Linked DNA regions of Homo sapiens. The protein of the gene in region 1 interacts with the protein of each later gene in a pairwise test. Each region holds a gene or a part of one and is shown on either strand. Other genes may lie near its edges. The genes, in order: VWC2 and PFKFB1.

Region 1 (3,823 bases):
AAAAAAAACCTAATTGTGCCAACAACAACAAAAGAAACTCATCTCAAAAACAGGCCTTTATATTACTTCAAGATTGATTTTAACTTCTAAGGCTACATTGCCAACCAGGTCAGTGTTTTGTCTCAGGCTACACTAAAGTTTTTCAAAGTTTCCTTTCTTTTTTACATTTTTTTGGCCAAGTACACATACACACACTCCTTAGCCCTCACTCCCAGGCAGGTTGACTGTGGTCTAGTGCCTCAGAAAGAGACATGGTTAAACTCCAGTTGAGCTTTTGCTTCTCGTAATAGCCAGTCCACTCAGTGGAGATTTCAGTTTTTAGTGTTTGCATTGTATAGACAAAGGGAGCATCTGTGAGAGTTACTCATGTTCTTTACCTTACAAGCGGTATTTGTATCATGGACGTGGGGCACACAACTCAACTGGGGTCTCCCTGCCCCTGGCAAAGCAGGAACTCAGCTTGATACGACCCATTTCCATGTCCCCCATTTCCATGGTCTTTCTAGTGAGTATCCCCACTTCCCAGTTTTGCTTCTGATGGCTGGGTCTGCATATGCTCTTCCTGCTTTGTCCTGGGTCAGCCAGATCAAAAATCACTCCATTGGTGGTAACCAGGAGATAAATCACCATGCCCTGTGTGAGTGACCATGGAGGGTCCCGTTAGCCACGTACAGCTTTCTTGGGAATGGCTGGTATGCTTGATTTGGATAGCTCAAGAAGGCAGAGTATGAGCCCATGGCTGGAAAGTAGAGAGAGGCAAATGGAAGCTTGGTTTCTAACAGAGCATCGTGATGCTGGATAGTGGGCAGAATGACCTGGAGGAAATTGGAATCACCATGGACTCGCAGTCAGGAGCCCTCAGTGGAAGAGGACCTTGTGCTCACAGGACAGACATGCCCATGGCATGTTGCCTAACACCTCTGAGTCTCAGTTTCCTGTTAGTACAAAGGGTCAGTAATTTGAGTACGTGTATTTTAGCGCTGCTGTAAAAGTTCAGTGAGGGAATATTCATAGAGCTCCCGGCCCTTGGCCCCGCTTGGATGCCACCCTGTTTCTCCTCCTTCACCCCTTTCCCCTTTCCTATTCCAGTGTCTTCGTAACTGGAAACACTGGGAGTGTTCCATGTGAGTCTGGGTGGTGACTTGACAGGGTTATAGACAAGGGATTCACCTACGTGGTGAGGGGATGGGCAAGAACTCAGCAGCAAGTTTTTATTTGTTTAATTTTTAAAGAGATGAAAAACATTTCTTCAAAAAAAAGTTTAATAAGAAACCCAATATGCAGACCACAAATTAAACAGTGGCTCTGGCTGGACAGGAGAGGGAACATCATAGCCCTGTGGCCCGTCCTGTGCGTTTGCACCTAAGACAACTCACCAAACACCCAGCATGCCTGTGTCCACACTCTGAAAACCACTGGGCTGGATCATTTTTTAAACATTCCTAAAACACTTAGGTGTCTTCGCAGAAAGTTTAGGGAAAGAAAAGTATGACCCTGTAGGGCCAGGCTCACTCCTGTAATCCCAGCACTTTGGGAGGCTGAGGCGGGCAGATCACTTGAGGTCAGGAGTTCAAGACCAGCCTGGCCAACATGGTTAAACCCCATCTCTATAAAAAACACATAAATTAGCCAGGCATAGTGGTGGGTGCCTGTAATCCCAGCTACTCAGGAGGCTGAGGCAGCAGAATCGCTTGAACTCGGGAAACAGAGGTTGCGGTGAGCCGAGATCGCACCACTGCACTCCAGTGTGAGCGACAGAGCGAGACTCCATTTCAAAAAAATATATATGACCCTGTAGGATAAACATGACAGCAGGCTAAAGTGCTGATTGTGGGCTTGTGTTTCAGGTGTCTCCATGCGAGAGGTGTCGCTGTGAAGCCAACGGTGAGGTGCTATGCACAGTGTCAGCGTGTCCCCAGACGGAGTGTGTGGACCCTGTGTACGAGCCTGATCAGTGCTGTCCCATCTGCAAAAATGGTATGTGAGATCCCCGTTGGTGACGGGGTGCACCTCCCACCCTGATGCACAACCCATGTGCTGCTTCATGGTAGACGGGACACATACGGATACGTGAGTTTCATCCTATGTATCAATACACATGCGTACACACGTGTGTAATCTTTCAGCCACAGTGGTTCTGTAGCAAGGCCTTCTCTCTCTTACTGGCATCAGCACCATGTTTTATGGATGTTAAGAAGTTCTTTGGGGAGAAATTCAATTTCCACCTTTGAGGAGAGTCACTTATTTTAATTTAACTTTGTTTGTTCTTGCAAAGCTGTTTCTATCTTTCCAAGACACATTAAACACACTGGTTGGGCTCATTTACTTTTCATTACTAAGTGAATGAAACTTGGAACATAATTGAATATTTTTCATAAGCAAATTAGGCAGGAAGAGAGTCCCTTCCTATTCCCAGTGAGAGCCCCTGGTAGATCAGAAGCCTTGCTTACTTTATGAAAATGAAGTGGCAGGATGTCCTTGATCCTAATTTGTCATGGGAGAGTGTTTCCTCATCCTGACAAACGATGATTACTCTGTACCTGAGGTACTGAGGGCATTACACTATAAGACGGTTTTTGACAAGAGTGCATACCCAGGCTGGCTGGGCCTGAGAATTATGGCCCGGAGGGCAGTTTGACAAGAGGCTGAGCAGAGCTTGGGAAACAGCGGACAGAGGGGACACAGCCGGAGTCTACAAGGATCTGAGTGGCCTCGCTGACAGGAGCGACTGGGCTTTCTGGATGTTGCCCAGGGTATGCTGTGGGGACCCCTGGTTGAGAGCATTCAGAGCTAACTTGTGATGCTGTCGGCCGTTCATGTGGGTTGCTGGACCGAGGCTTGATAGCTGTGTGGCATGGGTTTGGTATGTGGCAGGCATGTGTTGGTGGATGGTGACACAGGGGTGGTCATGGTGCTCAGACAATTCCCAGAGTCTGTCATGACAGTCGAAATTGTGCGGGCCATGAGGTTCCATGGGTACCTTCGACCACGTACCTGTACATATCCAGATTTTACTACAACACATTGTAAAACTCTTGAGGTAAATAATTGGAAGAGGGAATGATGTTGCTGTTGAAGGATAGACCTGAAAGAACAAGATGACTGTGTTAGGAATGTCATAATCATTGTAGCATAGTACATCCAGTCCTCCAAAGGCAAGTGGACAGTGTTAAAACAAAGATGTCACAGAGTGTACTTTATATAGGGTTGGCTGGTCTCTTGTGCATGTTAATTATGAAGAAATCCTGAGGTAGGATTCCATTAGACAAGAACGAGGGGGACTTTGAGCATGGAGTGTGTTTTTTTTTTAAAAAAAAAAATGATGTTGAGACACCAGCTGTGAGATGGAGGGAAATCAATACAGTTTACTCTACTAGTGTTAATTACCACTAATTAACACTAATAAAGGGGGAAGAAGACTCTGGGATTGGGGAAGGAGAGGCAGATGGAGAATCTGGCAGAGTCTCGGTGTGGCTTTCAGCACACCCGCTGAGGAGCCCGAGTGAGCGCCTCTGGTCTGCTGGGAGAGCTGAGGGCTGGCGCTCAGGCCATGTGCCCTGCATGTCGGGGGTACTGGACGACAACAACTCTCACTGCGTCAAGGGGTTTAGTGAATGGCTTAAATATGGGTTGCTTAAATATTTGGCGTCTTAACTACCCAAGATATTCCATGTTTTTCCTGTAAATTTTGATTATAGACTAAGTCTTGGCATTAGATAGCCGGGAATCCTAGCTTGAGTGTTAACAATAGGTGAGAAGACAGGATTTCAACCCCTGGATTTTTTTTTCTTGCTTTTAGAGAAATTTCAAACCTACAGAAAAG
Region 2 (3,823 bases), on another chromosome or scaffold:
CTGTTCATGTCCTTTGCCCACTTTTTAATAGGGTTGTTTTTTTCTTGTAAATTTGTTTAAGTTCAACTTGATAAGAAACTTCTATAAAGCAAACAAAAACTATCACCAACATTATACTTAAAAGTGAAAGACTAAATGCTTTCCCCCTAACATCAGGACTAATGTAAGGATTTCCACCTTCTCCACTCTTTTGACATAGTACTAGAAGTTCTAACCACTGCAATAAGGCAATAAAAGGAAATAAAAGGCATACGGTTTGGAAAATAATTTTTAAAAAATCCCTATTTGCAAATGTCATGATTGTCTACATAGAAATATCCCCCTAAACTACAGAAATTCCTCGAACTAACAAGTGAGTTCATCAAGGCTGCAAGATACAAGATCAACACACAAAGACAATCTTGAGACTTTCATTTCTGGCATGACAGCATGAGGAGCTCTAAAGACCCATTCTCTAATAAAACAAGCTCAGCTGGCAAAATTACAACACAACAACCTTTTAAAATCTCTGGAAATTGTCTTAATGGAATACAGTACATGAAGATATTTTTATTCAAGAAAATCTACTGAAATGTGGTAAGAACACAGTCTTTGATACATGTGCCATGCTACTGTTCCCGACCTTACTACTGTCCCCTCACTACTGGCTCCAAGCTTAGCTTGATAGAAGCTCCACTTAAGGTGTGTATAGCCAAGATGAAGCTCCCTTTCGTCTTGGAGAGAATGTCCCATCAATACTTTGGCATCTTACTGGAAGGAGCAGAGAGCTAGCATTTAGCATTCCCTTCAGCTCAGAATTGCAGAGGCTAAATTCCTGGCAAGTGTGGTTAAGAGGTTGGAGGATCCCTTCCTCCTCCCAGTTTTTACTCATAGAATGGAGGCTATATACCAGGTGCAATAGGCTAAGAATACTGAGGTCCTGATTACCCTCATTCCATCTTGCTCACAGGGTAGGTTCCACACCAGGATAGGCAAACTAAGACCAGAAGCTGCTGTCTCGCCCAGCACCCAGAACAGTGCTCAGACAGTATACCCATGGAGAGAAGAAATTCATAAGATGAGAGAGCTCTGAAACTCTCCCCCCAAAACTAACTTTATTTTTAACATAGTACAAAGAAGCTCAAGCCCAAGGATGTTCTCAAAAACTACAAGTTCACTTAACTAACAGCAACATAGGCCAGCTTGTTCATCAGAGAGAACAAGAGAGAGAGGGACAGGTAAGAAGAGCCCTTCTGGGGTATGAAGAAACCTCCAAGACTTACTTCACAAACTACTCCTGCTAGAGTTTAATTAGATAAGGCTGCTGGGCAATGCATGCTTCAGGACACTGCCAAACAAACAAACAAACAAAAAACAAAAACAAAATACAGCATTCAGCTAGTAATTAGTGGAGCCTAGAGTGTAATACCCCCATGTGGGCTGACAGCTTAATAGAGAGACTGGGAAAAAGTCAAAGAAAGCCCAAATTACCTGCAAGCCAAAAACTATGCACTCCAAGAAGCAACACTGAAGGGTTCACACTGCAGGGAAACATACTTTAAAAATAGCCTAGCCAAGTCACAAAGCAAAGAGTTATATAGAAATAAGGAAATGATACCAGAAGGTAATTCAAACCCACAGGAACAAATGAAAATAATAGAAAATAATAAATACATACATGTTCTCCTTAATTTTCTCAGCTTCCTTAAAACATAAAATTATATAAAATAATACTTATAATGATGTATTATTTAGTTTTTAGCATATACAGATATAATATATATATTATAATAGCTCAAAAAGGAAGGTGAAAGAGAGCTATATATGAGTAAAATTTTTATATCTCATTGAAATTAAATTAGTACAAATCTGAAGCACACTGATGTATGATGTATGTGAAAAGCCCTAGAACAACCACGAAGAATATACCTAAAAAATATATAATAAAAAATGATCAAATGAATTAAAAAGTTAAACTAGAATAATTCATTTAATGCAAAAGAAAGCAGTAAAGGAAGAATAGAGAGAAAAAGACATGAGCTCTATGGAAAAATAAAACTGCATATTTAAACCAACTATATCAATAATGATTTTAAATCAGAACAGATTAATCAACCCAATCAAAAGGTAGAGAATATCTAACTGAATACAAACAAACAAGATCCAACTGCATGCTGCCTACAGAAGATAGGTTTTAGACTGAAAGATACAAGGCAGGCCTGGTGGCTCACGCCTATAATCCGAGCACTTTGGGAAACCAAGGTGGGAGGATCCCTTGAGTCCAGAAGTTTGAGACCAGCCTGGGCAACATAGTGAGACTCCATCTCTATTCTAAAAAAGAAAGAAGAAAAAAGAGAAAGAAGCAAATAGATTAAAAGTAAAATAACGTAAGTAATACATCATGCAAACAACAACCACAAGAAATTTGGAGTGACCATACTAATATGAGACAAAATGGATGTTCAAAAACATTACTAGAGATATATAGGGACATTCAATAATGACAAAAGGGTCAATCCATAATGAATATATCACAAGTATAAACGTATATGCCTAAACAACAGAGCTGCCAAATACATGAAGCAAAACTGGCAGAATTGAAGGGAGAAATAGACAATCCACTGACAATAGTTGGAAACTTCAAGACCACTCTTTCAATAATGGATAGAACAACTACATAGAAGATCAACAACAGGGAAATAGAGGACTTCAACACAAAGTAGTAATAACAAACATCTGTAAAACACTCCATCTCCAAACAGCAGACTATACATTTTTCCAAAGTGTACATCAAACATGCTCCAAGAGAGACAATATTCTAGGCCATAAAAGAAGCTTCAATAAATTTGGAAGAATGGAAATCATATAAAGTATGTTCTCCAATCATAATGGAGTAAAATAAAAAATTAATAACAGAGAGAACTTTGGGAAATTCACAAATATGGGAACCTAAAGGAAACAGAAGAAGGATATAATAAGGATTAGAGGTGAAAATAATAAAACAGAGACTAGGAAAACATTAGAAAAAAATCAACAAAATCAAAAGTTGGTTATTTGAAAAAATTAATAAACTTGACAAACCTTTAGTGAGACTGACCAAGAAAAAAAAGAGAAAACTCAAATTAATAAATTCAGGAAAAAAAGAGGAGACATTACTACTGACTTTATGAAAATAAAAAGAATTATAAGGGAATATTATGAACAATCATAAACTGTATGCCAACACAATAAATGCCTTAGGTGAAATAGATAAATTATTAGAATGATACAAACTCTCAAAACTGACTAAAAAAGAAATGAAATCTAAATAGATCTATAACAAGGGGTTGAATAAGTAATGAAAAACCTTGCCAGAAAGAAAAGTCCAGGATTAGATGGTTTCACTGGTGAATTCTACAAACATTTAAAGAATAATACGATTCTTCAAAAGCTCTTTCAAAAAGTAGAAGAGGAAGAAGCACTTCCCAACTCATTCTATGAGGCCAGTATTTCCGTGCTACCAAAGTTAGGCACATATATTAGAAGAAAAGAAAATTATAGACCAATAGCTGTTGTGAATATGGATGTAAAAATCCCCACAAAACACTAGCAAACTGAACCCAGGAATGTATAAAAGGATTTATATGTATACATTATATATATGTATATATTATACTTATACTTTTTACATCACAATCAAGTTAGATTTATTATAGGAATGCAAGCTTGATTTAACCTTTGAAAATCAATTAATGCAACAGATCACATCAATAGAATTAAGGACAAAAAAACCAAATGATCATCATAATAGGCACAGATAAAGCATTTGGGAAATTAAATACCCCTTCATGATAAAACCAACAAC

Evidence for each region.
Region 2: the proteins of VWC2 (region 1) and PFKFB1 interact in binary tests that used the Homo sapiens proteins (3 or more experiments, as listed by UniProt).

Annotation. Positions count from the first base shown.
Region 1 is NC_000007.14:49,800,864-49,804,686, forward strand, and holds part of VWC2 (brorin precursor), read left to right. Parts: intron 1-1,847; coding exon 1,848-1,977; intron 1,978-3,823. UniProt on the Homo sapiens protein: BMP antagonist which may play a role in neural development. Promotes cell adhesion.
Region 2 is NC_000023.11:54,983,980-54,987,802, forward strand, and holds part of PFKFB1 (6-phosphofructo-2-kinase/fructose-2,6-bisphosphatase 1), read right to left. Parts: intron 1-3,823. UniProt on the Homo sapiens protein: Synthesis and degradation of fructose 2,6-bisphosphate.